Linked DNA regions of Homo sapiens: region 1 is linked to region 2. The links come from fine-mapping of genetic effects on gene expression. A gene starts in region 2. The other region holds a variant in brackets. All regions are shown on one strand. Distances are from middle to middle. Region 1 overlaps KHDRBS2 (KH RNA binding domain containing, signal transduction associated 2). Region 2 holds the start of KHDRBS2 (KH RNA binding domain containing, signal transduction associated 2).

Region 1 (15,645 bases), 320 kb before region 2:
ATCTTGTCCCTTCTCGCCAAATATTTCCCTGTACTTTTCAGGCCCTTGCTTGGCTTCACAGCTCTCTGTGATGATCCCCAGGGCTCAGAAAGTACTCACCTTAAAACCCCCTATTAATGTATTTTCTGTTTGAGCTAATCTGCACCATACAACCTGCTTCTCCACCTGGGCTTATAGTACCTATTCTCTTGTCCTTAATCTAGTAATCTGTCTCTTTCTACTCATATTGAGACAAGTAGCAAAAACTGCCCAATTCTAAGAAAGATTTATTTTAAAAAAATCATGAGCCCTGAACCTTTTGGAGCAGTTACAAATAAGAGTGTTAAATATTTTTCTAATGTATATTTTTAAAGCAACATAGGAAAAAATTGCATCTAATTGGTGCAGGGGGAATTTTACACTCAACTAACCAATTATTAACTATCACAATTATGTATGACTGCAATAATGTGGTGAAATAAAGTGAAATATTTCAGAAGCAATAAACATATTGATCCTTAGATCAATAAAAACATGACTAGCTTATAGGGATGGGTTTTATAGCACAAGCACAAAAGTCCACATTTGTAACATTTCAACAAAAAGCAGAATGCCTCCATTAACAAAACTCGAAATTCAGTTACAGATAAATTATTCTAAGCATTTTAACAAATTTCCTGCATGAAAATGATCAATTTTTCTTCCTATACATAAATTTATTTTTGATAGACATTATGTACATTTGAGAACAAATTTTAAGATTAAAGGCTTAATCTTCATGAGGTAAAGAGTAGAAGAATTCCAATGAGGTATCTCGTTCAGGGTAAGATGAAATGAGCACACTCTGCAATGTTTTACCCACTGAGTGCATGAAGCAGTTATTTGAAGACACTAAAAAGTAAAGAGCATCATGCAGACTGGGGAGTAGAAATCAGAATTTATAATACAATTGAAGTAGTGTTCAGTTTATCACTTTCTTCCCTGCCTTTTTTCCCTGGCCCAGACTGAAGTTAGTCCACAGCTTAGAAGTGAGACTTGTATGGATAAAGAGAAACTTGAGAGAAATTTTCCTTATGAGATCCCAAGAAAGTGAGCATTATATATCCTATGTTGCAACAATAGCTTTACAATAAACTTTCATTCGTTGATTAAGCCAACAATTATTCACTGAGTGCTTACTATTGCCAGGGATTTTTCTTATCTCTAATGATAGTCAATGAATAAAACATCCAATAAAAAAATGGATTGTACATTCTAGTAGGGGAGAATGTAATAGATAATAAACAACAGCAATAATTAAGCTTCTTGTAAGGTGGTTTAGAAGGTGATGAGTGTGAAAGAAGGAAAGAAGGGAAGAAAGAAAAAGAAAGAAAGAAAAGAGAAAGAAGGAAGAGAGAGAGAGAAAGAAAGAAAGAGAAAAAAAGAGATGGAGGAAGGAAGGAAGGAAGGAAAGAGACAGTACTACAGGGCAAGGGGAATGAGGAGTGCTGGCAAGGGGAGCAAGATGTTTTAAGTAGGGTTGTTGGAAAGGCCTCATTTGAAAGAATGACATTTGAACAAAGATTTGAAAAGGCTGAAGTGCTGAAATGGAGACTTGTGGGGAGGCTTTCACACTGAGGGTTCGCTCAAAGACCCTAAGGAGAGAGCAAGCCTGACTTGCGCATGGGTACAGTGAAAAGGTTAGAGTGACCAGAGGGAAAAAAGGGAAGACCACGGCACATGAGGTCAAAGAGAAGTTGCTGGGTGGGCAAAATCATACAGGGCCTTGAAGGCCATTATAAATTCTATAGCTTTCACTCAGCATGAAGCAGAGAGCCAGTGCTGGACTTTAAGAACAGGACTGACATGATCTGGATTACAGTTTAAACGGGATCATTCTGGCAGCTGTGTTTAAAATAGACTATGTAGGTACCATATAATAAATACAATAGCATATTTTATGTGGAGATATATATATATACACATATAATAGAGAACCAACCAGAACCTGTGTTCCATGAAAAATACTCTAGGAAAGGTAATGCATGAATGAATTGATGCTCTAAAGGCAAGTATATCTTACAGGCAATCTTCAATAAACACTATTTCTCACAAGTAAGCTTTGATAGAAATTGGGCAGCTGAGTGGGTTTATAATCTCTGGCAGAAGTTGAATGGCAGTTCTATTGTGTTGCTAATCAAAAGTATAATGATATGCTTTGAAAGTTCATGGTTAGGTTCTAAAAAGCTGGTCTCCCTAGGCTCCTGCTTCAGTAGAAAGAAACATGACTTCTCTTGATCAGCTTGTGATGAAGCAATAACTGTGGGCACAACCAATAATATTCTCAAAAACTTGCTGCTCTAACACACGAACAAAATAGTATGTGTGGCCTGTAGATCTGTGCTCCATTTCAGTAGTTCCCAATCTATGGGCTGCACACTCTAAGTGATTGTATTTTTTATGTGTGGGAGGGGTCAAAGTTTTGCAAAGTTATTTTTTTTAATACTAAATTTGGATGTGACCTTTCAACTAATACAAAGTACAACTATTACACTGTAGAAGATCCACTAACTTTTTCAACATTAAACTTGTAAAATTTGGGGAGTTCTTTTTATAGTTAGAAGATGCTTACAATCAATAAATTAGGATAAATAAATCTGGAGGATAACTGTCAAAAATGATCATTTTCATTATCAATTTTCATCTTCGCTTTCTGACAAAAATTATATAGTCATGACTACAGTCTAGGCCAGGCCACTCCTAGGGGTGACAATAAAATATCATGTGAATTTTATACAAATCAGATTTAGAACCTTTGTTCCATCAACTATCAATGTGGGATTTCGGCTCTGGAAGCTCAGATTTTCAGTTAATAAAAAGGGAAACACATTTACATTTTATGTGATAGTAAATGTGTGAATAGGTCTTTGTTGGTGAGCATGTATGATTAAAAGGAAATGAGTCTCAATGCTAAATATTTGTGCTGGCCATTCTGTTTTTATTTCTCACACTGACAGCAGCAGACTTATTCACTACCAAACACCACATAAGCTGGTTGCTATTTAATAGTGAAATAAAACATGGCAGTAAACATGATTGCAGGGAGTAAGGGTACCATCACAAATATATGCAAAGCAAATAATATTCCAATATCAGTTTTGTTACCTGAGGCTATGTTCTAAACATGAGATAAACTCCTGGTTTAATGTAATTATAAATTATGGTATTTAATGATATGGAATATGATATGAAAACATGAGCAATTACATTTTAGCAGTCTAAGAAAATATCTGAGGATCCAGAAATTTCAGAATGAGGGAAATGCTACTGTTTTAAGAACTAACTCACTTTACAAAAGCTGAAATATTGCTCTAATATAACAATCTCTAAAGTATGTTGAGATGAAATTAGATAACTTCCTGAACAAGGACTACTTGGCCAAATAAATATGCAAACATTGGATTGAAAAAGTTTAGCTTCTTCACTGCAGCACTCCTCAGAGTCTTTAAATGGTAATTAGGGATGTGACTCTATGAAAGGGGAACACTGAAGAAAGCATTTTGTAAACTTAATTGAGTACAGGGGCCCTCTCACTCTTTCTTTTCCAATAGAACACTCTGTGAAATAAGTGTTCCAAATAATATTTTGGGAAATGATGTCCTAACCCAATCTAAATTAAGGAAAGTTCCCTAATACAGTCTAATTGGGACACATAGCCGGCAGGATTTTACAAGGGTTTCTCCTCATCCCTCACATTTTGATGTGCAATCATGTACGTGGGCCTGATAAATCCAAGTGAAAGGTTTCTTCTCGATAACTAAAGGAGATAACTTCTGTGATCTATAAATTAGAATAATTTCTTACCAAATATTAAAAATTAAGCTGAGGAAAATATTGTTTCTTCCTTTACACCTAAAGTTTAAAGGAGCTTTTCCATAACAAAAAGACAACTTTTAAGATTCTCATCTTGTTCCCAAAGGAATGACCAGTTTTAATTCTGTTTTCCAGTTGACTTTATGAAGGGTAATGTCATCTAAAGACATGTACTTCTTTTCCTCTGAATATATCACAGTACAAAATATCGGACCTCCTTGCACTGCGGCTCGTTACCACAAGTTCACTTACAGAAAAAAATCGAGCATGAAGCCAAGATTTATCACTTACAGTTTGTTGTATCAATTGGTGCTACAGAGGAGTAATGCTGCTTTTTAGGAGCCCACACATATATATGTTGTAGAAGAATTTCTGGCTAATGAAAAAATTCAGTTAAACATTTTTAGCCTGTTCACATTGTAAGAGGCTATGTTCATCAATCAATATTTATTGAGAATGACGGCACAAGCAATCGCATCAGGCAGCATGGGGCTTATAAAGTATAATCCAGCTTTGATTTCTGACTTCAGGGAGCTGAATTTCATTAGGGAGAGAAGAGAGACACATTTGCAAATAGCATATTCACTGTCAACTTATATGTCTCCCCAGCATATTAGATGTCCACTAGTGTATTTACACATCGAATTTTTAATTTATGAAAGCAAATTGACTATTTCTAAAAAATAAGCTTTTTTCTCCTTGAAATTAAAAGCCTGTTATTGCTTGTGATTTGATTTTTGAATTATTTTAAAGTAACACTTGATGAACTTAATTAGCTAATGTGATTTACAGATACTGAGTTATCTAAAAAAATAAATTGAGGAATCATTGTCTTGGTCTAGATTTCAAGTGATTCTGACATTTGAGTTGTAACATAAATAACAGATGAATGAGCCAAACAGCAGTGGCAGAAATGTGCTTCAAAGGAAAAGCACTTAAACAGATTTCCACACAGGTGTTTAGGCAAAAATACAGTCTACCAACAGGATAAAAGATACTTTAGTCAAATATCTGTACATTTTGTTCTACACATGGGTAAACATCTGTATACCCAGAAATATTTAGATATTTTAATGTTTCACTTTATATTTCAGTATACTTGTATATTCATGAATATTCATGTATGTTGCACAGAATTTGTTAATCTTTGCACTTGGGTGAATGTAAACGAAGTTCTGTTGCTTTTTGGAAAAGAGGAGTTTGATGTTGGCTTTCTAGGGCTGAGATGTAAAAATTAAAAGGGAAATGCTAAATTCCAGTGACAAGAGTCCAGAGAGTTTCCACTCTGCTCTGGGAGGGCTTATGGTTTGCCATGTGCCAGGGGCCAATTTCAGGGCACTTGAAACATCTGCTCCCCCTACTTACAAATCAATCATAGCCTTTATGGGTCTGGAAGCTTCAAAGTCTTGGAAAGAGGCAAGAGGACCCAGTCTAGACTGCTGTGGGTATGGTCAACCGCTAGGACTGGGAAGGAGACCAGATATTAGGCATCCTGCTCATTCCTGATCTCTAAGTATTTACCAGATGACAAAAGTCAAGTTGGGTTTGGAGAAACGTGTAGTTTTCGGGTTAACATTATTCCCTACAGTTTCTTCTTTTTATCTCTGAAAACTGCATGATCAGTGGAGGCAAATGGGGATTAAAAAGCAAGAGAGGGTAGATATTTTCCAGATTGGTTGAGGGTCAGGTAGTGAAAAATCTGATATTCTAAGAAGAGTCACTCTGGTTACCAATATATGTTAGTATTTATTTTGTTATAATATTGTACAGTTATTTTTAATTTCCAAAGAATCATAAATAAATAATATATATAATGTATAAATATGGAGATTCTGGACTATGGTAAAGTTGTCCTACTTTAGAGGATAAGTTAAGGCATTTTCTTGCAGAGGAGAGTAGAGAGCAATGGGAGTACTGATATTTTGATGAATAATGTTTAGAAAGTCACTTAAATTGGAAGGAGACGTTTGAGTGACTGCAATAAGTTAATTTAAAATATAATAGACATTCCACAGTCAAGTTTCCTCACCTTTGTGTATATTCTTTATAATGAGCTACATTTCCTGATTTTACTACTTAGATAAGAAGTTTAGGGTCAATCAGCAATAGACAGAAAAGCCTCCTATTATTCATAGTGTACCTCCTCTCATTCTTGCTCCTGCAGACCAACTGTTATGATTGATATCAGGGGAAAATAAATCTCTGGATGCAATACATTCTAACTGTACTATAATTGACATAGAATTTGTTTTACGCTTAAAATGAAATCTGAAAATGAGAATTACACTGAAAGGTAATGAATTACAGTTTGGTAGTAAAATTATCTCATCGTAAGATAAAACATTCATTTAAGAAGATAACTGTAAGAAAATGTACTTTTCTATTACAACTATCTTCGGGTAGTTTGAGGCAAAATGATCTGTACTTTTCAATATAGATCATATAATTTTCTAATATGAAATAAATTTAGCATTTTAATGCAATTTTAGTTATGCATTTTAATATTTCTTTCTCCCATACTATGACTGTGATGCTTCTAGTGTAAGTCTCCCTCATCTTTGATCCATGAATGTGAATTCCCTGGACCTCTGTTGTCCAGGGGACATGATAATTTGCATGTGCATTTTTCTGGGCAGAGAATCCAGAGGTTTCTTCTCATTTTGAAAGTGATCTCTAAGTGATCAGTGATCTACTTGACCACGGAAAATACAAATTACACAATATCTTAAGAAGCCAAAATCCAGCAGCCCAATTCTTCATGCTGTCACTAGTCACATGGCATTCCACAGCACCCCAAAACTATTCTAACTTCTAACTGTAACTTTATTGTTGTTATTATTATTTTTTGGAATACGGGTTTTGAGAGTCTTAAGCTTCCATAAAACCACTAGGATCAGGTTAGCTTCCTGGCTCAGACATTTCTTTTTATTTTCCTTCTTTTTTTCTGCCTCTCCCTATCATGCACTTAGAGAAAACCTCTCCTTAAACAGTACAATAGTCAGAAATGCTCATTCATTCATATATTTATAATCCTAAAAATGAGCCTAATTTAAACTAAAAACATTCAGTCGATTTATTTTAAAATTCCTAATTATGTTTAATAAATGAATGGGATAGTTTTATACACTGAGATCTACAAAAATTATGTATATTTTTAACTGAGATAAATTTAAAAAAATAGAATTATGGTAGTTTCCTTTATAATTTTAAAATTATCTTGTTCATTTAAAGTCATACAAATATAACAAGACACATGAAATTACAATTGTGTGCCATGTTTAAATGATTAGATTGGAGTAGGATTTCTTTCCACTATGTTTACAAAAAAAAAAAAAAAAAAGGATAAATGAGCCCACTGAAATTTCAGACTTAAAAGAAATAAAACAAAGTAAAAAAGTGAAATACTTTATAACAGTAAATCATAGTATATCTGTGAAATTTGAGAGAAAAGACAGTCATTTATTTGAAAGTGCTTGGAAATGTAAGCCATTTTACAAGCTGTATGCTGTGAAGATAGATGATAGATAGATAGACAGATAGATAGACAGATGGATAGATTGATAGATTGATATAGATATAGATAGATATGAATGAAAATAAGAAGCAGCAGGGTGGGCTGTAGCTGAAAGGAGAGTTATAAAGGGTCAGTGGGGAAAGGAGAGGGCAAGAGCTATTATAGCAAACCCAGATTCAGAGGAGTCCCAAACCAGGAGTGAGTAGAAGCTCTGAAGTCAAGAAAGCAGAGTGGAGGTAAGCAAGTCGGTTGGGAAGAGGCTGAAAGTGAATAAGCACACAGAGAGAGGTGGATTATTTTAATGTTGAAGTTATTTATTAGATTTCCTACACTGTCTAGGACTCACAGTTCTCTGTGAGGCTCTACATTATTATTTTGCCTGCTCTTAAAATTTCCATGAGAATCTCCCTTCTCTCTCTCTCTCTGGCCTTTTCTCTCTCTCTCAATACATACATACATACATACACACATACACACACATACACACAAACATACACACACACACACATATATATATACACATGCATACACACACGTATATATATATATATATATATATATACACACACACACACATGCACACACACACATACTGAAAATATACCCCCTCTCTCTGCACTCCTCACAGTGCATGGCACAGTAGTTAAATCTATAACTTTATTACTCAGAGAAGAGGATCTTTAAGCTTTAGAATGTTACTGTAATTTAAATAGTATTTTCTTTTATTCCTGAGAATAACCAATGATATATACACATTACCATGCCAGTCCCTCTTTTGCTGCTGAAGTCTAGTTTCTAAATATATTTCAGTACATTGCACTATTAACCATTCTTACTGTGAGAATGACCACATTATAATGTAAAAAGGCATCATCTTGCTTCTAGATATGAGAGTATTCCTGAAAATGTTTGGCAATGCATAATTCCAACATATGATATGTTCATGCCCCTACACCTACCACAGTTCTGTCACATACTCCTTGCCTATGTTTAAAACAACCGTGAAGTGATTTCACGAATGGGTGTAATATGTTTCTGCCATGAAAATAAGAAAGTGAAAACAAGAGGTCCCCAAATAGAACAGCCTTATGAATATATTATTGAATTAATGAGTATCTAAGAATGTGCAGGAAAAATTGCACCTGTGTTACCACTAAAAGCAATATTGGCAAGTGCTTGCTGAATGGTAATAAGTCCAGAGTTGTCTATGTAACCATAAATAGGCATTATATGATTCTCTAAATACAGAGAAGCCTAATACTAATTACACAAACCATGCCACCTGCAAGTTACTTATTTAGTGCCCTTCAATACAGCATGAGAAAACTTACAGCATCTGGGCCTGCATATTTTGATAATATCCTTGATGAGGAGGCATCTGATCAGGCCCTTTTTTGTTGCCTGACCTCGGGTAGTTTAAGTAACCATGCTGGCCTTTAGTATCCTCACTGGTAAAATGAGGCTTAGATTCCACCTGTGGTTTTCAAATAACCCTCTTTGGAGCTCTGTGGCTTCTGAGAATTCTTTAGAGGATTGACAAAAATAAAAGAAAGAAAAAAATAATGAATTTCAAGTATTTTCTTCCAAACATTAATATTTATATTGCCTTAGAAACCTGTTAATTGTTTTGAGCTTAAGTATCCCTTCCAGTTCTATAATTATAGAAATGAATCCACATAGGTATTGAGATAAAAGCTTTTACATATAAGATCTTTTCTGTAATAAAGTGAACTGGGCTTAATGCAAGGGTAGCAAGTTTATCTAAATAAAGAATTTTTGGATAACAGATTATTGTTGCTCATAGAACTTAAGGTTGATAATGTAATTCTTATAAGAAGTGACCTGTGTTTTGCCACATTTTGGTGAGGACATCATCTAGGTTCTAGAGAAAAGGTTATTCTCCTTGTATCACTAACATGCACAGTTACTAGCAGATTGTTAATCATAACAATTCAGTACACTCTCTAAACAAAGAATATTATAAAATATGTTTTATGCAGTGGGTTTCTTTTGTTGTAA[C/A]AATGTGTCTGGTCTAAAAAGATGTCTGTACTTTGCATGAGGACTAGTTTTAACTGAAATCTTATCCTAACTATAACTTGTCTATGTATGGGTTTAAGGAGAGTACTCATATACCCTTTATTTGTAAAACATTTCTTTTTTCACTTATAAAATCATTTTCCTCTGATTCTGAAACCTATCCTGGCTTATAAAGTGTCTTTCTAAAGCTTCAAATTCCTCAAATAAGAAGTAGATTAGGAATAAAAAGAAAAGAACAGAAGAGGATTAAAATGTAATTTATGTTGGAAAAATGCAATAATTTCATCAGATGGCATTTTCAATCCCTTCAGTATGCTATGGATAACAGACAAGACCAGTGAAATTGGGTGAAATTATTATATGAATTTGTGTATTCAAATTTTATTCTGACTTAAATAAAGATAAATACTAGTTGGAGGCCGTAGAATTCTAAATGAGAGGTGTGTTTCAAAAAAAAACATATAAAATCTCTTAAAATTTTAAGATGTTATTATTCTTGGTATAAGAGAGCAACTAAAGTTTCCATATTATAGAAGTCAAGCCCTAAAATTCTAAAGTTCAGAACAGAGAAAACGAAGAAAGGGAATGAAAGACATCTGAGAAATAGTAGCAATATAAAAGGAAACAGATTTTGGAAAGTTACAATTGACTCATTTATGTAGATAGAAATAACATAAGTGATTGTCTTCTCTCTATATATGTGTGTATCTATATATAATATCATGCAATCTTGTTGACTGATTAATTTAAAATGGTGCTCTTACCACCATCATCATATATCAATAATTCATTATTGAACTCCCATGTTACTTGATTGGGTCATTTAAAGAAAAGTTTCTTGTTTGCATGAATAAAGTAAAGAGCTGATTAGTTAAAAAAAAACTGCATATTTTCAGACTCTTTCAAATGCATTTAAAAAAAAAATCCCATCATTTTATTTCAAGTATGGGCTGATGAGAAAAGAGCAACACCTGAGCATATCTTGGTAAAATGCTTGAATTCTAAGTATAAGGTGAACTACAGCTCTCATTCAAAACGACCAAGTTAAGTACACAGAAGAAAGCTCACATGCAACACTGGATGCAGGAAGATGGTAACCTAGCATTTAGAGATTACTGAGAGAGAACACTTCACTGTGAGAACTCTGAACACATCGAAGAGTCCACTGAGCTAAAAGGAAGAAAGTCATTTGAGGATTTGCAACAGTTCTACTGGTCTATCATTCACATACCCCAACAGGGGAAAATATTTGAAATTAAGACTCAAACCAACAAGGCCAACTAGATTATTACAGGACCAGTGTTACGCCTCTCTTGCTCTATGTTCACATCACCTACCAGTCTCATTCTTCATGACCTTTTCACAAAGCTCTTGGAGCACTAAAAGCTGGAGACTGTACAAGGAGATGAATGAGTATAACATGCCCTCTTCCCACTGCTACTCCCCAAGCTGTAATTTGTTCTAAGCCTGTGGGAGGAGAAGAGTTTTGTATTAGATTTGAAATGGCAATTATAAATTGGAAATAAGTGGGCTTCTTAAAACCTCAAATGCCTAAATTGAGACTCTTCTTATAGAAGAAGGAGTAGAAAACTATGTTATTTGTTCAAGCTGAAATTAAGAATAAGAAGGGGAGAATGACAGTTGTTAAGAAAAATAAAGCCAAGTCCTATTTGTATCACATTGAGTACAGACCATCCAGTAAGCCATTTGTACTTGTATTTTAAGGCATTGTTATATATGCATCCTTACATACACTACGTAGAAAGACTGGCGTGGAGTGAATGAGAAGGGAACAACAATAACAACAAAAATACTAAAGATGAGATAGAAGTTATATTTTTGGTACAATAGGGATTCTCTGAAGTTTCCTGGCTATCTAGTTTAAATATCATCTGGAAGAATCAATACATTTTTCATTGTAGCTTGCTGAGTTTCAAAGTAGTAAAATGAGATCACTTAATCAAGGAAGGGCAATTCAAAAAAAATGTTTTATGTTATTTAGCTCTTTAAAAAGTAAGAATTAGTTGCTAGAAGTTGAAGATACATTTCAGAAATACATAATTTTGTTAAAAAATCAGTTTCAAAATATGCTATACTCTGGAGGTGTTTCTTGGTGTATTTTAAAATGTTCACTGTGAAATAGAATCTTTGGCTGTGGGTCATCAATATTTTCAAGAGGCTAATCGAACTCTCTTTCTCTCTCTCTTCCTCTCCCCCTTCCACTTTCTCTCTTTGTCTCTGTCTCAGTAGATAAATTACCCTTGTTTGTATGGTGGTGGTCTTTGCCAGCAATTGATTTTCGTTGACCCTAGGAATATCACTTTCTGTTTGATCAGTGTTTCCTGCTCTATTGTTGCCACCATCCTTCCTTAAACACATTACTATCCAATCTGGTTTCCCATTTCCAGTAGCTCTCAAATAAGTCTTTATAATCTTTATCTTTTACATTTTAGAAATAGTTTTTCTGGTTCTTAAATTCTACTAGGTCAGTGGCTCATGTACCATACATTGCTAGAATTGTGCCTGGCATATATTTGGTGTCCAGAAATATTTGTTGTGTTAATTAGTATGATCTATTCACCTATTTCCAATTCTTATCTCAGATAAAAATTATAAACCTTACTTAACAGATTCTGATTACTGGGCACCTTTTCTGCTCAATCTCCAGTAATCATGAGTCTTTTTGAGTCACATTCATCTAAAAGCTATTTGCAGGTCAGTGTTGACATATGATTATTATGCCAACTGCTTCTTTTATCTGTCTTCCAAGTTATGTCAATCAATTAGCAATGATACAGTAGTCCTGGATTTCAATAATAATAATCATGATTCTTACTATTATTCTATTCTAAGAACTAATAAGAATTTTAGTTTTGTTCTAATAGATCTGTATTATCTATTACAACTTATCAGATAAGAAGAAATACTCCATAGATGATTACAGATGTCTTCCAAGAAAATCAGACTATTATCATAGTGCTATAGCACTATAGCAATACAGGAAATATTTCTGAGCAACTAATAATTACATAAATACATGTGGCTTTGTGCTTACTGCCATTAGCTACCACACTATTAGAATATGGTTAGTTACAAGAAAGAAAAGGGAATTAATTGGTTTTGAGATAGCAGTATGAGGGAACTCTTGACAACATTTTAACAACCACAACAATGAAGGAATGAAATCTGGATTATGGATTCTGCTTCCCTCTCTGCATTGAACTTTGTTTTTAAATTCTGTAACCAATCATTCTCTTGCTTGTAGGATATTATTGCTATAAATGTTGAACTCCTGCCGTCAGCCAGTCAAAATGTATCTGCCATCTCTCACCTTTTAGGTCTTGCCATTTATCAGTTACTTTTGCTGGCTGGTGGGGTTTAGTTGAATACATTGTTTTCCCTATATATTCACCTGCATAAAAGACTGATCAGCCAGGTGTGGCGGCTGATGCCTGTCATCCCAGCATTTTAGGAGGCTGAGGCTGGTGGGTCATCTGAGGTCAGGAGTTCAAGACCAGACTAGCCCACATGGCAAAAGCCCATCTCTACTAAAAATACAGAAATAAGCTGTGTGTGGTGGCATGCACCTGTAATCCCAGCTAAGGCAGGAGAATCACTTGAACCTGGGAGGAGAAGGTTGCAGTGAGCTGAGATCACACCACTGCATTCCAGCCTGGGTGAGAGAGTGAGACTCTGTCTCAAAAAGAAAAATAAAAAATAGACTGATCAAATTTTCACTTTTTCTCAAATTATAGCATCAATTTCAGGGACACATTTTTATATTTATCATCTTCTAAAACTTTATAACTTTTTTTTAGTGTATGAAAGTTTAGATCTATCTACTAGACTGAAAATTCTGCTTCCCTTTTCTATTTTTCCTTACATTTACTTACTTACCAGTATGATTGCTGTTAGTAATCAGTGACATTTTCCAATTTCAGAACTAGGATTACAGTGTTTGAAGAAGGGAGGCAAGAATATCCTCCATTTGCTTTTGCCATAAAGAAGAAAAAGGTTTTACTTTTCCTCCATAGTCAGGCTCTTGGTAGGTTTCCCAGATGTGTTACCAGTATCTCAAACTTGAAATGAGATAATACACCCTAATTCCCCCATTTCAAGAATCACAGCTATCACTAAGACACACATCCAACTAATGCAGGAAAGAAAGAAACTGGAATGATCTATATTTTTTCTCTCTTAAATTGACTTAAAATCTTATATATGAGTCTAGTAACAGTTACACACATACACACACACGTTTACATAAGTATATAAGTTATATATATATCTTTCCTTTAAATTATATAGACCTCTAGTGATAATCATTAAAGACTTAAGCCTGGCATGGCAAAATTTTTCAAGTTCTGTCAACTCTGCTAATATTGTAACGCTGTGCAGCATGCTGTGTTGGGAAGATTCTGGGCCATGATGGGCCAAGGTAGAAAAGAGAATCACAATCTCTTAACTATGTCAATAGGATAGTTATTGGAAGATGTAAAAAAGCAATCTATTTGTTATCCATGACCTAATCAAATTATCTGTGCAAAAACTCCTCCTTTCATCTTTTTAATGAAAGAATATATAAACACACAATGAGCAGAATTTCATGCAACACTTCATAATTTCTAATTATGAGACAATGTACTATGTTTCAGTCATGAGTTAATAATTAAGCATTAGTAAAACTTATTAATTCAATTGAATTGAAGGTGAGAATAAGCCAATTTAGGAAAATAAAACAGTGTTATCATTTTGAAGTAACATACTGAGAAGGATTAGAAATAGGAAAGTTGTATTCATGGTCCTAGGTAGTACTATTCACAAACTATGGTGTAAATGTTACCCCCTAGAGTTGCACAAGACACAACTCTCACAACCATATGTGGCAATCCTGGTGTCTGAACTATGAAAGAAAGAAATAGTATAAAATACAATAGTGGCAATACTTGCTTACCTCTTTATAGAATATAAAGAGAGGAGTGCATCAACATTATTGAAGCATATATTAGTTTAGGATTTTATATCCTGTTTCTCGTTACTCATCAAAAAATTTATTTTACAATTCTAACCTGTATTTTTAAGATAAATAATCAAATATAATGAAAACTTTAATACTTCACCTCCCAAAAGTACTAGAGATTTAAAATTAGCCATGTTCAAATTAAAGGTGTTTTATTGACCCTTGACACTCTATTTGTTTTGAAAAGACTATAGTGTGTCTGGGTGTGGTGGCTCACATCTGTAATCCCAGCACTTTGGGAGGCTGAGGCGGGTGGATCATGAGGTCAAGATTTCGAGACCAGCCTGACCAATGTGGTGAAACCTCATCTCTACTAAAAATACAAAAATTAGCTGGGCATGGTAACATGTGCCTGTAATCTCAGCTACTCGGGAGGCTGAGGCAGGAGAATCGCTTGAACCCAGGAGGTGGAGGTTGCAGTGAGCCGAGATCGTTCCATTGCATTCCAGCCTGGGCGACATAGCAAGACTCCATCTTAAAAAATAAATAAATAAATAAATAAATAAATAAATAAATAAATAAATAAATAAAAGACTACAGTGTGTGAATGGAGACCAACAGGCTGGAAATTTTCCCCAAGGCAATAATAATTCTTTTGTCTTCAGCAATCCACTTAAAATGCTGAAAGTGGGTTGTTTACCAGCATCCTAAAGCATTCAGACAGCTCACAAGGAGTTCTATGTTCTAAAGTTGGTTATCTTAGACAATTACAACCCTTGGACATACAGCAGGTTGAGTAAATTCTGGATAACATACAAGAGGTAGAAGAAGGTAAAAAGTCCTACCATGGAAAATTAATCCCTTTCGCAGAAGAACAAGATGTCAGTGGAATTCCAGAGTCTTGCCCTATATAAGCCTTCTTTGTTGTTCTAGCATGTCTCTTACTGCCTAGAATTCTTCATCTACAATGTTTGCAAATGTTAATGTATAGAAACTTTAGCATTTCTGTGGGCTTTAATATAAAATATCAAAAGAACCTTAGATCACCAAGTCATTTCATAGAATAAAAAAAATTGGCAGTTCATTTTTGCCCCTTGCGGTTCTCCCATTCTTTGCTTTCTGCTGATGCAAGCAAGGCAAATGGGATAAATTTATGACTTTCATTGATGGGAAAATTTACTAATAAAACATTGAGAGACATATCAGAATAGCCCTCATGACATTCATATTCTAGCACAGAAATCAAAGATAAGCAAGATGCACACACACACACACACACACACACACAGAGAGATATAAAACA
Region 2 (15,645 bases):
ATTACCATAAACAACAGAAGTTATGACTTTCTCTGAATTCCTATATCAGTGGTCTCTAAAATTTCTGTAAAATCTATCAGACCTTCCATATACTTATTTATATCATATATGTATATATATAAATATCTGTCTATATATGTAGTTGAATCCCCTATAGATTATAAACCCCATAAATTAAACATTTGATACTTCATTTATTAATAGCACATATCATATGCAGTTTTTTGGGTTTTTCTGTTGTTTTTGTTTTGTTTTGTTTTGTTTTTGAGACGGAGTCTTGCTCTGTCACCCAAGCTGGAGTGCAGTGGCGTGATCTCGGCTCACTGCAACCTCCACCTCCCGGGTTCACACCATTCTCCTGCCTCAGCCTCCCGAGTAGCTGGGACTACAGGCGCCCGCCACCACGCCTGGCTAATTTTTTTGTATTTTTAGTAGAGATGGGGTTTCACCGTGTTAGGCAGGATGGCCTCGATCTCCTGACCTTGTGATCCACCTGCCTCGGCCTCCCAAAGTGCTGGGATTACAAGCGTGAGCCACTGTGCCCGGCCCATATGCAGTTTTTAACAACACACATTCAAGGGCATATGTGATTGTGTAGTCAAATGCAGTAGAGTACTAGTCTGATGGAATTAATCCTCCAAACTATAACTAAAATATAAGGTAAATAGCCTAATGCTTTTATGATTGTTTATTATCTCTCTATACTGCAAAATCTTTTTGGAAGTACTGTTATGAGTCAAATGGAGGATGTGCTAAAAATGACTTCTTTCCTCCAAAAAAGTTAATAACAATGGAGCAAGAGGATGCTTGGCCATGACCTCACAAGTATTTGGCAAATAAAAGATGCAATCACTACAGAACTCTGCACTTGAGAAGATGAGGAAGCCATATAATATGGATATTTGCTAACATTAATGTAGAATATCATCTATTAGTGGTTATTCCACCTCTAAAAAAATTTCCAAATTCAGTTTATTTTATTGGAATTCAGCAGTTTGTGGGGAATAGTACCAAATTTTGATCTATGAAATATATTAAATATTACACGGTTTATAGCTTTAAAAAATCAAACTGATGCCAGAATATAATTCCAATGAAGATATATTTCTCATAATATAGCCAAACCAAAAAGAAAGATCAAATTCAGTGCTCAAATAAGTGCAAAAGGAAAGCTGATGATACTACACAGTTATTTCCAGGGGTTTCTAAAAACTACCTCCAAACCTCACTTCCTCCCCTTGTACAGCTGCTGTGGGAACAAACAGCTTCACTATAGACTGTATACATAAAGAGAAACTGAGAATAATGATCAGTTATGTTCCCATTCTCAGGTACCAGGCCATAAAAAAACCTTAAAATCAGATAAATATAGAGAATACTACTGTGTCCATTATCTAGATGAATTTATCGTGGTCATGCTCATTCCTATATAACTAGTCAATGAAATATTAATATTAATGTACAAGGCCTAATAGTCAATCAAAAGAAAATTTCATAAAAATATAAATTAAAACACATAAATGAATGCGGATGGGACATTACAGATAAACATAAGAAGACTTTCTTTTCTAGAAAGTGGAAAAAAGGAGGCCAATTGTCTCAGTACCACAAGATTCGGGAATGACATTTCAATGGTTTTCTTAGATTTTCTTTGTGCCGCGTATGTGCCAGACTGAGTGCTAGAAAAGCCAGCAACTCAGAAGTATTAAAGGCAGACACGGCCAGGCGTGGTGGCTCACGTCTGTAATCCCAGCACTTTGGGAGGCCGAGGTGGGCGGATCACGAGGTCAGGAGATTGAGACCATCCTGGTTAACACGGTGAAACCCCGTCTCTACTAAAAATACAAAAAATTAGCCAGGCGTGGTGGCGGGTGCCTGTAGTCCCAGCTACTCAGGAGGCTGAGACAGGAGAATGGCCTGAACCCGGGAGGCGGAGCTTGCAGTGAGCTGAGATTGTGCCACTGCACTCCAGCCTGGGTGACAGAGCCAGACTCCATCTCAAAAAATAAATAAATAAATAAATAAAAATAAATAAAAAGCAGACACACACAAAGCCTCAATCCAAACAACAAAGAAACAAATGGGCAGATTCTCAGATACCTCACAGAGTAAAGAAGGACTTCCCTGTACTATCTTTCCAACTTCCTGCATATGAATAATTTTTCAAAATTGACTTAAAAACAAATGGAAACTTTCAAAGTGGCCTCCTGAGGTTTTGAATTATGCAAAGATAAAATATGACTGAATTAGTATTATCATTGTAAGTGACAGAATTACTGAAAAATTGTTTCTGGAGATATCTTCTAAACACATGGTAGGAGAAAAAGGAAGATATGAGGTCAGCATCATTCAGTTAAGAAACATTTATTGAGGCCTTCTACATATAAGACTGAAGGCAAGCATTAAAAATTCAAAGACAGAAGTCATAGTATGGCCCTCAAGCTTAGAGGGGGAGACAACCAAGATCAAAAAGAATTGCATGTTGCAATGTAGTAGTGGTGGATAGGTTGAAAATAAAACCAGAAGTGCACTTAATTTATAATGAATTAGATGAGAAGCCATTATGAAAGGCTTACTAGAAGAAGGAATAGCAGTACTCAGTTTTATTGGATGAAGATAAATTATAATCATGGAGAGAAGCTAGAAAGGGCATTCTAAAGTGAGGTCTTAGCATGTGCAACACCTTAGAGATAGGAGAGGACAGAGAGAAGAGCAAGTGTTATTCACATGCGGAAGAGGTAGCAGAGGGGCCAACAGGGGGCTGGTTCTCAAATCTGATGGAGAAAAGCCTGTTTGGCCTCTACCTGGCACCATCACATACCAGGCACTGTGAAAAGTGCTGCTAATATAGTGATGAAAAAGACTTGGTTCTGCTCCTCAAGAGGAGACAGAGAGGAGCTGTTTCTCTAGTGAGAGAGACAGGCACAACCTGATCATTCTAAAATAACAGTTTGAATAGTGATCTAGAGGCGTTCGTTATGGGAATGAGGGGAAAATATCTAGCTTTCTGTGAATAGGTATGGGAATGTCAAGGGAGTGTAGAGAGTGAATTATAAGCAGTTTGGTATACCTGAGAGAAATTAAGCAGAAAGGCTGAAGAGATGCTTCTGGAGAGGTAAGCATATTATAAGAACGTCAAGGGGTATGGACTACGCCTTGCAGGCAATGGAAATTATTAAGAAGTGTGACATGGTGAGACTTTAAATGAATTACTGTGACAGCATTGTGTGTGTTGGTGTGGGAAGGAGGGAAATGAAGGATGATGAGGGCAAGAAACGGTCAAAAAAGGAAGTAAAACCAGTAGAATATAGTGCCCAGAAGACAAGGAAGATGGAAAGAAATCAGAAGAAGGTCAACAGTGGAAAGTGCAGCCAAGAGACTTGATAAGGGGTCAGAAAAAATTTACTCAATTTGGCAATATGAGATTATTCTGTCACTAGGGTCATCAGTTTCAGGACAGTGATGAAGACAGAAGCCAAACCGAATAATTCTAAAAAGGTAAATTAAGAAAGTGAGGCAGCTAGTATATACTAGTATTATCAGAAGTTTGAAGGAAACAAGGAAGGACAAATGTCAAGAGAGATTATTTTCCAATATTTGTGGCAAGTGAAAGAAGTATTCTATTTCTTCAAATTATTCACATTGAATCATGTTGACAGCTGCTATAAAGAAAGAGTCGATCGGGAGAAAGAGTAGGAGATACAAATAAAGGATTTAACTACAGAATGAGTCCAGAGATGAAGAGCATTTGGGTCAAGGATATGGATGGCAAGTCAACCCTGAAGAAAAGAAACATTTGGTCTTCTGGGAATGAAAGACAATGACGATGGCTATGGAAGTTTTTAGGTGGTAGGAGGTTGAGGAATAGCAGAAGAGAGATATCCATTTCCTCCAATAAAACAGATGATGAAATCACCTGCTGAGAGTGAAGAACATGTGGGTTTAAGATGAAGCCTGAATAGGTCTGAAATTACTCTTGAAATAAATAGGACCAGGGCTAATCAAGCCCATGGTTAAAGACTGACAAGTGATCATTTACTAAACATGATATTTTTAAAACCCTCAATCTAATCCTTTTTCATAAGGTAATTTATTTCATAATTTGCTTTATGAGTTCAAATGTAACTCAGCAGTAATCTAAAGTAAGGCAGTGTTTATTTTACTTATTTTCTCAAATTGAGGTGCATCATCATGTTATGTTTGTTTAATTTCTGCTTATATTTTTGTTATACACATAAAAATTATTGGCCGGGCACAGTGGTTCATGCCTGTAATCCTAGCACTTTGGGAGGATGAGGCAGGTCAATCACAAAATTCGGAGTTTGAGACCAGCCTGGCCAACATGGTGAAATCCAGTCTCTACTAAAAATACAAAAATTAGCCGGGTGTGGTGGCACGCACCTGTAATCCCAGCTACTTGGGAGGCTGAGGCAGGAGAATTGCTTGAACCCAGGAGGCAGAGGTTGCAGTGAGCCAAAATCGCACCACTTCACTCTAACCTGGGCAACAGCGCAAGGCTCTGTCTCAAAAATAAAATAAAATAAATTTTTAAAATACGGCTTATGTTATCACAAGCATCACAAGCAGAAGTTGTTTTTTGTTTGTTTGTTTTTGTTTTTGTTTTTTCATCTTAAAAGAACCCTGCCTGGTAGGTATCACTTTTCCTGTTATATAGATGAAGAAACTGAGTATCAGAGAGGTGGAAAAAAAATGACACATCCTTTATTTCCCAGTAGGTAGAAGTGTCAATAATCACTCCCAAGTGTTTTTCTTGTCAAAGTAGAAATTTTCCACTATATCATAAATTGTCTTAATTGAAGATCAAAGATAACTTGAATTTAATTTTTTGCCCATGTTTGTTTTGTATTTAAGAAACATAAGATTATCCCAAGTCTATTGGGAGAAAAAGGTGATTACGTTAATCAAAAGAAAAGTCACTTTAAAGAGTCACAGGAACACTATTTTTTAACCAGAAGCTGTTTTAGACATGACACTAATAACTTTCCTTAATTAAAAAACTTATCAAGCTTTATGAAAAATATTTAAGAAACACGATCTAACTAAAAAATGGTTCTTATTGATAATCTAAATGTAGTTAACTCACAAGTTTGCATGTGTGGTAAGTATTAATCCCTCTTTTCTTAATATTTTTAAGATCTCATTTATATCTGCAGAAATAAAGGCCAAGTCTAGATGGCAGGTCAAACTTTTTACTAAAGTTTGAAAATAGCGCCTACAGTTTTTTGAAAACCATTCGAACTGCTGGAATATTTGGCAATATTTGACATCGTCATATAATGAGTCAACCAAAATGGTTATGATTATTTCAGTGCTTGCAAAGATTTCAGGCTAGAAAATCTTCCCCAAACCTCTCTTAATTGGACAAAAATTTATAATGCTCCTAGGAGTATGGAATCACCATAACTGAATATATAAATCTGAACAGATCTATGTCTGTCAGCAGACACAGAATATTTCCAGATAATATTTTCATGTATATACATTTTTGGCCTCAAACATTAATAGTAGTTCAATAGACTTAAGAACATAAATCTGTCCCCAGTACCCAAAATAAAGTATATGCCTCAAATTACATTTTAGTGCCATAAATATATTATTAATCATTAAACTAGGAAAGAATGAAAAAAGTTTCAAAAATGTGCAGCCATTGAATTTTTGTTCCGAATATACAAACATCACTTCGTTGTATCATCAGTAGCCTGAGACTTAATTAGAATTGCAAAAAAACATATACATCACTTAGTCCAACTCCTTAATTTGAGAGACAAGGAAACTGGGCCCAGGGAAAGAAAGCTTACCCAGATTCAGTTGAGGTTAAAGTGGAATTCAAATCTAGGTATCTAGATTCACAGTTTAATGCACTTCCCAGAAGCAGAAAAGATATAAATAAACTTATGTAATTTCATCTGGCAACCAAATTCAGACACTGAGTAGAACTTTAAGGATAGTCCTGAGTTTGCTGTTTTATCATATTCAAAAGCACCTACCATAACAAGTGGATAACTAAACAACATTATAATCGCAGGATGAACATTATTTTAATTATTTAAGCATATTATAAACAAACTTCAAACTACATTATTCAAGAACTCTTCTGAGTAACAATCAACTGAAATCATTCTCATTGAAAACACACAGCACAAACAAGTGAAATAAAACAAACTACAATGGACCCCCCAAAAACCCCAAATAAACATCCAACTAGTACTTTCAACCCCACAGCCTTCAATTCTACATGAAGCACTGTCAATTGAGCACTGATTTGCCTGTATCACCAATCAAAATGCAAAATAAATCATTGTGAAATCTCATTGGTTTATACTACTGCCTTTATATATATTAGCTTCCGGAAAATCATTCTGAAGAACTGAATCATCTGTATCATTTTTACTACTCACTCAGGCTTGACACTGTCTGCACAGTACTGACTGAAATGTACTTTGCACCTTCTTTCCAAATGAATATCTATGTCAGGTTTATTTACAGCCACTCCCTTCAATCAGTGCATTCTCAGGTATGAGAAATAAAATAATCTCAACCATACTCTTCTATAGAGATCTGAAACTAAGCGTGGACATCTTGGCAACTGGCCTTTGGAAAGATAATGAAAGATCTATACCATAAAATATACATTAAGATTATTGAGATTCCAAGAACAATCATCTTACACTCTTTAATTAGCACATGTAAAGAGCCCCAGGTACAGAGAGCTAATATAAAACCTATGCACCCTTTTGCATAACTCTTTAGGTACTCCAAGATTATTATAACCTCCTCCATTCTCTTTTCCTCATTCTGATTTCTCTGAAATTTGGGTAACCTCTTTGTTTCTTACTTAGATGTTTTTCTCTATTTAGGAGCTTTTCCTTCTAATTCTTTACAAAAGCAGGGCATGCTTCCCCCTGCTGGGAAAAAATCAAATTACAAGGTACATCAGAACATGTTCCTAAGTATTATATCAAGAAATCAAGTTCCTAGGAAAGATAAAATGTTAAGGAACCAAGTGCATTCTCTGACTGTTTTACCAGCCACAGAAATACTTATGCACTCTGTTAAGAGTTTCTTGTATGCATTTATTTAGCTTGGCCGTCTTCAAGTACAATAACTCATATTAATGACTGATGAATTAATCTTTGAGCCACTTGTCTCAAATAGAACTCCAATTAGCGGGTCAGAGAGAATGATCAATTTGTAACTTTTTTTTCACTTTAAAGACATATTATAAGCTACATAAAGAAAATTCTGGAAAATATATTGAAGACTATTCAAAATATATTAAAGATACTGAAGACTGGTAAGACTTGCCTTTTAAATCATTTCAAACAATCTTAAACATCTATTAACACATTATTTTGCTATTATTTTTATGTAGTTGTCTTTTTTGGGAAAGTAAAAAAAGTTCGTTTTTATTGACTTTACTTTTCCACTTTAATTTATATTTTTTTTCATTCAGTAACCAAGAAAGTAGTAGGCATAATTGTATTTCACCTTCCCACTTATCTATAAAACTAGCTTTTTCCCTGAAAACAGTTTAGTTATTTCACATGTTCCATGTTTTGAATATAAATCTTTTCCTAATTGTTTAGTATTTAAACATAGAAAAATACCTTACACTTCATTGTTAATATAAATAACAATTCATAAATTAAAAAATATAGCTAATGCCTATTTAAATCATATATTGAGGAGCAGAATTTATTCTTCCTTGGTACAACTAAGTCTCAAAAAAATCTTTTAATACTGAGGAGCTTGGGTAGAGGAAGTTATCCGTTTTAGTTTTTTGCTGTATGTAAGTCCATAACAAACTTAGCTACAAAACTGCATTGTAACCAATTTGATGATGAAGCAATTCATTATTAATGAAGCATTCATCTAAAAAAAATCTGCAGATGTTTTAAAAAGGCATGGGTAAGTAACTACAGATACCATAGGTGTCTTTAGTATTTAGATGGCATTATTATAACATAAATGGAGTAATTCGGTTAATAAAGTTCATGTGTCTTTTTTCAAAAAAAAACCTTTCAAAGCAATGCAAAAAACAAGACATATGTGTTCCTCTAGGAATGAAATCCCCTTTAACATTACAGGTACACAAAAGAAAATGCACACTTGGTAAAACAGTTGATCAATTATAGAGTGTTCCCAGGGACCAATATCTCACAGAGTACCCAATCATCACACTTCAAATAAATGTATAAGCACTTTAGCCTTTACTTACCACATTAACATACATATAAGAACATGCATAGTTTAATGCATAGGTTAATTCTAACACTTTCCATAGGATAGACTTTGATTAAAGGGTATCAAAAATCACTTCCTAAATGCAGCAAAAAATAAAAATAAAAATACCGATCTGTAGCTACGAAGCTCTTAGAACACTACATTGATCACCATTTACTTCCAAACTGCTTTCCCTTCCCTCTGCGAAGTGAAAATGTCCCTGTAGACCGCGTTACATACACTTTATGGTTTCTCTATCAATGATCCTAACAGGTCACATCGCCACTGCCATTAGATCTCCGTAGCTTTGGTCTTCTCCAAATTAAGACGTGGAGAAGGAGCACTGCTGTCCGCCCCAAGAACGGGGTCTGTCCGCCCGAGCTCTAAGGCGAGCATCTTCAGGGGGACAGTTTCTGCGAAGGCGGGGAGAGGAGTCCCTCCCCAACTTCACTCCCCTAATCAAGCCGCGGGTGAGATAGGCAGCCGGCGGTTTGTGCCCATCTGTGGGGGCAAGTCCTACCTTCTGCCAAAAGGCGCGACGCATGCACAAAAGATGGATCCAGGCTATCTTTCTCTGCCATCAGCTCAGGCAAATATTTCTCCTCTTCCATAGCGCGGACTTCGGATTGTCCCCGGGCGAAGCGCGAGGTTCCGCTCGCTCGGACGCAGGCAGGGTCTTGGGGCAGCGCCTGGCTCCCGCGCTGCTCCTCCTCCGCGCGGCGAGGGATCTCTGTGCGTCCTCACTGGCCCATGCACCCAGCACCTGCGACTCCCGCCGTCGGGCTGCGTGGCCCCGCGCCCACACCTGCCCGTCCCTTCCGTCGTCCCTCGCTCGCGCAGAGCCCCGGCTCACACCAGCGGCCTTAACTGGAGAGGCGGGAACAGGACGCGGCCCACCTCCGCCAACCACTCATTGGTGGTGGTGCCAGGAGAGGCGGGGCGCTGGCAGAAGGCCGCGGGCTCTCATTGGGCGGTAGCGCAAGTCGGGTGGCCTGACTGGCAGGAGGCAGCTGCAGAGGGGAAGGGAGCTCGGAAGATGCAAACGCTTTCTTCTTGCGCCCAAGCCTTCCCTGGCTATTAGGCATGCCCAGTTTTGTGGAGTTCTCTGTGTCTTCAGCTAAGGCGCAGAGGAGAGAGAGCGCGGGAAAAGCGCAGGTTAAAGAGAGAGGTCTGAGTACAAGTGGACAGGGGAGATGGAGATGAGAAGTGAGCCACCCGAGAGGGTGGAAAAGCGCCAGGGAAAGTCTCAGGAAGGTAGATGGGACTTCACCTGCGTCCCTAAGGCACAGGTGTCTCCTTTCCCTCACACAGCTCAGGCGCACTCCAGTTGTGCAGGAATCAGCAGCGCACTGGGTCTGGAAATACAATGAAGACTGCATGTGATCGGCAGCTGGTATTTCCGATGACCTACATCTCAGGGACGCAGTAGGATGTTCATTGATAAACAAATAAAGCGGCTCGAAGAAATATTGTGCAGAGACATGATTGAGGTGTACAATCATTAGGATATTGAATTAGTTCTGGTAACCTATCCGTGCCTCCTTTCCCCAGACCCTATCTGTGGAAGGGAGGTTGGGAGGGGCTGAATTTAAAAACCAAAAACAATATGATTCATTAGTCACAGTTTGTGAAAGAATTGGGAAGACATGTAGAAGAAAGAAGAGACTAGAAAATAGGTAACCACGTTTGCTCTAATTTTCCCCTTTCTCCTAGTTTTAGATGTGCCAGTCTCTTTCACCAGGTACTGTTGCTGAGCTACTTTGTATTATCCCACCTCTATTTAAAGGAAAGTTAAACCCTCATGATATCACCAAGCGTGGAGGCAAAGCCCATCCTTCTTTTACCAATGCGGCTATAAAATGTAACTTGCATGCCTCAATCGCTAGGAAACAATCTTTCCCCAAGTCTTGGGTTCTCGTTTCATAAGTAGTCATTTCCTGATTCTTCTCTCCCCCATTATTTTTGGTGTGGAAGAATGAGGGCCAACTTTGCTACAAATAAAATGTGCTGAAATTTTTCCAACTTATCTTACTGTATTTAAATATTTTCCTTTTAATTTTTAGATAAATTCGGGAGATTAACTTTTATTTGTATAATGTTTAAATAACGTAACGTGCCTCACATTGATTATTTCAATACGTCCTCACAGAAGCACTCTGAAAAATGCCAGCCAAGTATTACTTTCTCTGTTTGTATAAATATGGAAACTGAGGCAAAACAGAGAAATCGTCTCATGTCTAGTTAATGCTGAAGTTGAGATTAAAATTCAATTCTATATTAGCACCATTTATATCCAGAATATACTGCTTCAACCTACCTTTCTGTGTGTTATATATTTAATTTATTTGTGCATGTGTGCATTCAACAAATGTTTATTGGATACTGAAAAGAGTCTAGGGACAGTACTTAAAATTGGAGAAACATTGGTGAATAAGATACATACACATTCATTCCTTGTCATCACAAAGATGTTTTCTAATGGGAGAAGATAAATAAAACCAAGTATACAAGAGGAATGGTAATTGTTGACTGCAATAAAGGTCAAGAATGAACCAAGGAGTTAAGAAAGAGAATACAAGGGAAGACATTAGTTTCTTTATTTTTGACTAGGGTAAACATACAATCTCGATAAGCAGCTGATATTTACGGTGAAAACTCATGGAAAAGAATGAACCAAGTGAGTACAATGTGCAAAGAAAGACATTCCAAGCAGGGGAACTTGCCCCTGAAAAAGCCCTGTGGTGGAAAGAACTGTGCTGTCTTTTGGAATTGACTGAGGTCAATGTGACTACTGTAATATGGGAAAGAATGGAATCAATAAGGGAGGGGGGATTGATGTGTACAAACACTGAAGATTTGATGAATGAAAATTATTTGGATTTTATTCTAAGTGTAATAGGGGACCATAAAGTATTGGTATCTTTCTGGATGTGCTTCTTAATCTCTTTCTGATTCTTATGTTACTTTCAAAGGAGCTATTATTTAGAATTGAGTATATATACAGAAAGTTCTTGCTATTTTATCTGTGTGCAGAATGTTTAGTAGTTGAAGGGTCATGCATCCTGCACCTGGTCTGCAACAGGGATATAAAGGGAAAATATGCTTCAAACTTAAAAGAGGTGGCTACGATTTGCTATGGTAGTAAAGGGTGAATACGATGCCAACCACAGGCAAAAAACTGTAAATGTTTTCGAATAAATGTAAATTAGAACAAAATATTTTACAATTACAATAACATTTTGCTTTGCAGCATATCAAGACATTAAAAGCATATGGTGAGGATGGAGACGTGCAGAAACCCAGTTTCATGAATGAAGAAGGTGTAGTAACTCTTATAATGTCCAGCAACAACAACTACTTTATTATTCACAGCCATCTTTTCCATGATTACAGGATTAATAAGAAGATACCACAGCGAGCTGTCCAAGTGCTGACTTTATTATACAATGTCTTCAAGTCATTATAAATACAGTCAAGTTAATATTTTCTAGTTATTATCAAAACTAAAGATTTATTATTTGTAGTTCTTCAGGTAATCCCTCATCAAATGCCTAAAATGTATTCTAACAAAGCAATATATTTATGCAACTTAAAAAATCAAAAGAAAATAAACTCTAACATAATCTTTAGAAAAGTTTGTGTACTTACTACATGATGGACATTGTAAAATAAAGATATATAAGTATATTGACCCTTAAAAATCAATATGCTTCAGAATTATCTCACAAAATGTTGCCTATTTTTAAACAGAATATGACTAAATAAAGGCAAACACCAAGGGCCCTACATATACACTCATCCAGCATCAGATCCACGTGTTTTCAATAGATGGCTCTGTGTTACTGCATGTTCTCCATTTATTTCACATGCAAATATTTTACAGGTACAACATTATCCTTTAATATTCTCAGAGAAACCTTGAAAATGCAAACATTTTATAAACATAAATGTAAACAGAAAAACTTTAAAAAATGATTGTTGAATATAGAATATTTTGTGTCTACCCTTGAATAAATTATAACTGCTGTTTAACCCACCTCTTCTAATGATATGAATAACCTAAATCACCACTGAATTGATTTGCCTAACTTAAGTAAAGATTTATCTTATTTTAAACATGACTTCTAGCCCCAAAACATTTTTAATGGAGTTCTAGTAACTTTAACATTATTTTTAAAATGGGATATTATAGAAAATTTTGCCCCAACCACATTTGGTTTTGAAGGATGAATAAGTCATGCACCATAGAATATGTTCTGTGGTTAAAGCACAAACTGTATATTCAATATTTTCACACACCCTTGTAAGAAAGGTCAGGCTAAAGGGCATTTAATCAGACTAATCCTTGCAAACTAATAAAAAAATACCCAGCCTGCATTATCAAGTAGAGCACAGTTTCTGTTGCTTCCAGAGTTCTTATTAACTTTATGGATACCACATTAGCTACTCTTGACTAGTTACTCCAAGGATTAACTAACTCTTGACTAGTTACTCAAAGGATTCAGTAAAACCAACTCACAATAAGAACCCTATGTTTCCAAAATTGTCCTGGCCCAATAATTTACATAATGATAATGGAGAATGATGGTGTTAATATTCTTTTAGCAATCTAATGCCTTGGTGCCTAGAACAGAGTATAATAAACTATAATAAAGGACTGGCCCACTTATATTTACTGTAGAGCCCAACAGAACTTATTATATAAAAGATGCTATTTTAATATCTTAATTTCTTTGAATTTCACTAACTACACAAGTGAAATCAGTTCCAGTTTCTTTTAGAACTTCTATGTTATACTTTAGGATTGTAAGAAAAGACAAGGAAATGAGGACTTGGCTCTGCTGATGACCAATAGTGGTAATTGCATGTGTAGTAAGAAATTTCTAATATGTAATATGCTCAAAGATAAAATTTATGCTATATGATAATATATCATAGTACCACATAAATATTCACCACTTAAAGCTTGTGTGTGTGTGTGTGTGTGTGTGTGTGTTTTCTAATTAGAAAGCATTCTAGTTATTTAATAGCATATTATATTTAAACTGATACAAATATATAATTAAAGAACAACAGAATAGAGACAGAAAGAAAATTATTGACATTTGTTGAGGGTCTGCTACTGTGTTAGAACACTGCTGTTCTGAATCCTCACAAGTGGGAGGAAGGAAGGAAGGCCAAGGAAGAAACTGTTCTTAATTCTAATGTGGCTTAGCCCAGAGAAACTATTTCTGAGGTTTAAATTATCTGTGTTTGAAAAACTAACAGAGTTGATGTCCTTGTATCTCCATGAACAATTGTTGCACTGCCACATTTTGGGTGGCACTCATAGCAGCTGAGGAGCAGTACTTCATTAGAGGAAATGGGAATGGGGCTGTTGTTCCAAGGTGAAAGCTATTTACTATATTCTTAAAATTAAATCCTTGAATTGTAGCTCAAGTATGGATTATTTCTGGAGATCAATATGTTAAGGTAAAAATCACATCAGTAAAATATATTTTTCTTACACATCAAATGAAGATCTAATCTCTGTTGTATTCAGTATGCAATAAAAATATGAAGGCTAGGAGACGATTTAATAAAAATGATAATAAAGTACGTTAAAACTTTTGCCAGACAGGCAGATGTATAAGCAATTGTTTTATATCATGAATAATACAAAAAAGGAAGCATGGATTAAATTTCAATTTAATTTGGAGGTTAATTAAAAAATTAGAAAACTATTAATATTGAAATAGTATTTTAAGAGAATACCATCCCATTCAAGTTTTTATATTACAACAGACACTTGTTTGGTATAAGTTTTTGTCATTCTGGTCTCTCACATTTAAAGACATTACCACGCATATAACAATCATTATGAAATCTACTGTATAAAATAGTTCGTACAAAGCAATTGCCAGGCATTTTAAGAGAATGATAATAAAATTAGAATATACAGTTCCAAATTTAAGAGTTTATCAGTTTCAAGAGAAGAAAACAAAATAATAAAATCAAAGACACATACATTGTATGTGATGCTTGGTGATAGACTGTGTGACCATCCAACCAGCACAGAACTAATAAATATCATAAAAATTATCCCAATACATTGAAAACAAATACAAGTGTAATATTGGATTATATCCTAGATCAGATTTTGTTTTTATTTTTATTTTTCATGAGAAAGAAAATTAGTGAGTTAATTTGTTAAATGTAAAAAAGGTCTGTTGTTTAAATTTACTGATTTTGCTGATGTACTGTGATTATATAAATGAATGTATGAGTTTTTAGAAATACACGATAAAGCATTCAATGGGTAAATGGGCATCAGATCAGCCACTTACTTTCAAATAATTAAGAAAAAAAATAAATGTTTATGGATACACATAAAGGAGGTGGGAGGGAGAGAGACATAAAAAGACAGAAAAAATGGCAACTTACAGTAAGTATGGTGAAATATTAACACTTGAAGAAGTTTGATAAGGGGTATATTTAAACTTTCTGTATTATTTTTTGCAACATTTTTGTAAATCTGAAGTTATTGCAGAATATAAACATAATTTTAAAATTAGCTAGTTATTAACAAAAATAACTTCAAAGTATTTTATCCACACTTCAGTTTAAGTATCATATTTTACTAGCCAGCCATGGAGTTCATAAGTCCATATTTATATTATATAACCTTTGTTATAGTGTGAATTGAGTTCAGAAATTTGGCCACAAAATGATAAATTTTGTTTAAAAAACATAACTTTACATATCTTACGGAAAATACCAACCACACGTGTGTAAATTACCTATTTATCTTTTTTTCCAAATAAAGGATAATACAAATAATTGTGTTGGCTCAATTATTTCTTTTAAAAATCCCAATGGCATCGATTTGTCAAACAATAAACCATTTATTTTGAAGAGATATAAGAAGTAACTACAGTTCTGACTGGGCGCGGTGGCTCATGCCTCTAATCTCGGCACTTTGGGAGGCTGAAGCAGGTGGATCGCCTGAGGTCAGGAGTTCAAGACCAGCCTAGCCAACGTGGTGAAACCCTGTCTCTACTAAAAATACAAAAATTAGCTGGGCGTGGTTGTGGGTGCCTGTGATCCCAGCTACACGGGAGGCTGAGGCAGGAGAATCACTAGAACCCGGAATGTGGGGGTTGCAGTGAGCCAAGATCACATCACTGCACTCTAGCCTGGGCGACAAGAGCAAACCACCGTCTCAAAAAAACAAACAAACAAACAAACAAAACAAATTAGAAGTAACTACAGTTACATTTTAATTATAGATGTAAACATGGGACAAAAGCTATAGTTTACATGCTTCTTGTATATGATCTTGGGCTTTGAGTGTTATGATATCCCTGCATTTCTGATTTTACCCTGTATCTTCTAAATGCTTTCATTCAGTTTGTTAGCTGC

The links.
Region 1: its variant is fine-mapped to the expression of KHDRBS2 in transverse colon (GTEx, PIP 0.96).

The regions. Positions count from the first base shown.
Region 1 is chr6:61,960,052-61,975,696 of GRCh38, forward strand. All of the region lies in intron 4 of KHDRBS2 (KH RNA binding domain containing, signal transduction associated 2), which reads right to left. Among named protein-coding and RNA genes, the nearest start is that of KHDRBS2, 320 kb to the right of the region's middle. The variant C/A (reference allele first, on the strand shown) is at 9,365.
Region 2 is chr6:62,277,094-62,292,738 of GRCh38, forward strand. KHDRBS2 (KH RNA binding domain containing, signal transduction associated 2) reads right to left here and starts at 9,132. Exons shown (of 9, transcript NM_152688.4): 1 at 8,765-9,132. The coding sequence starts at 8,855. RefSeq lists a silencer at 8,992-9,081.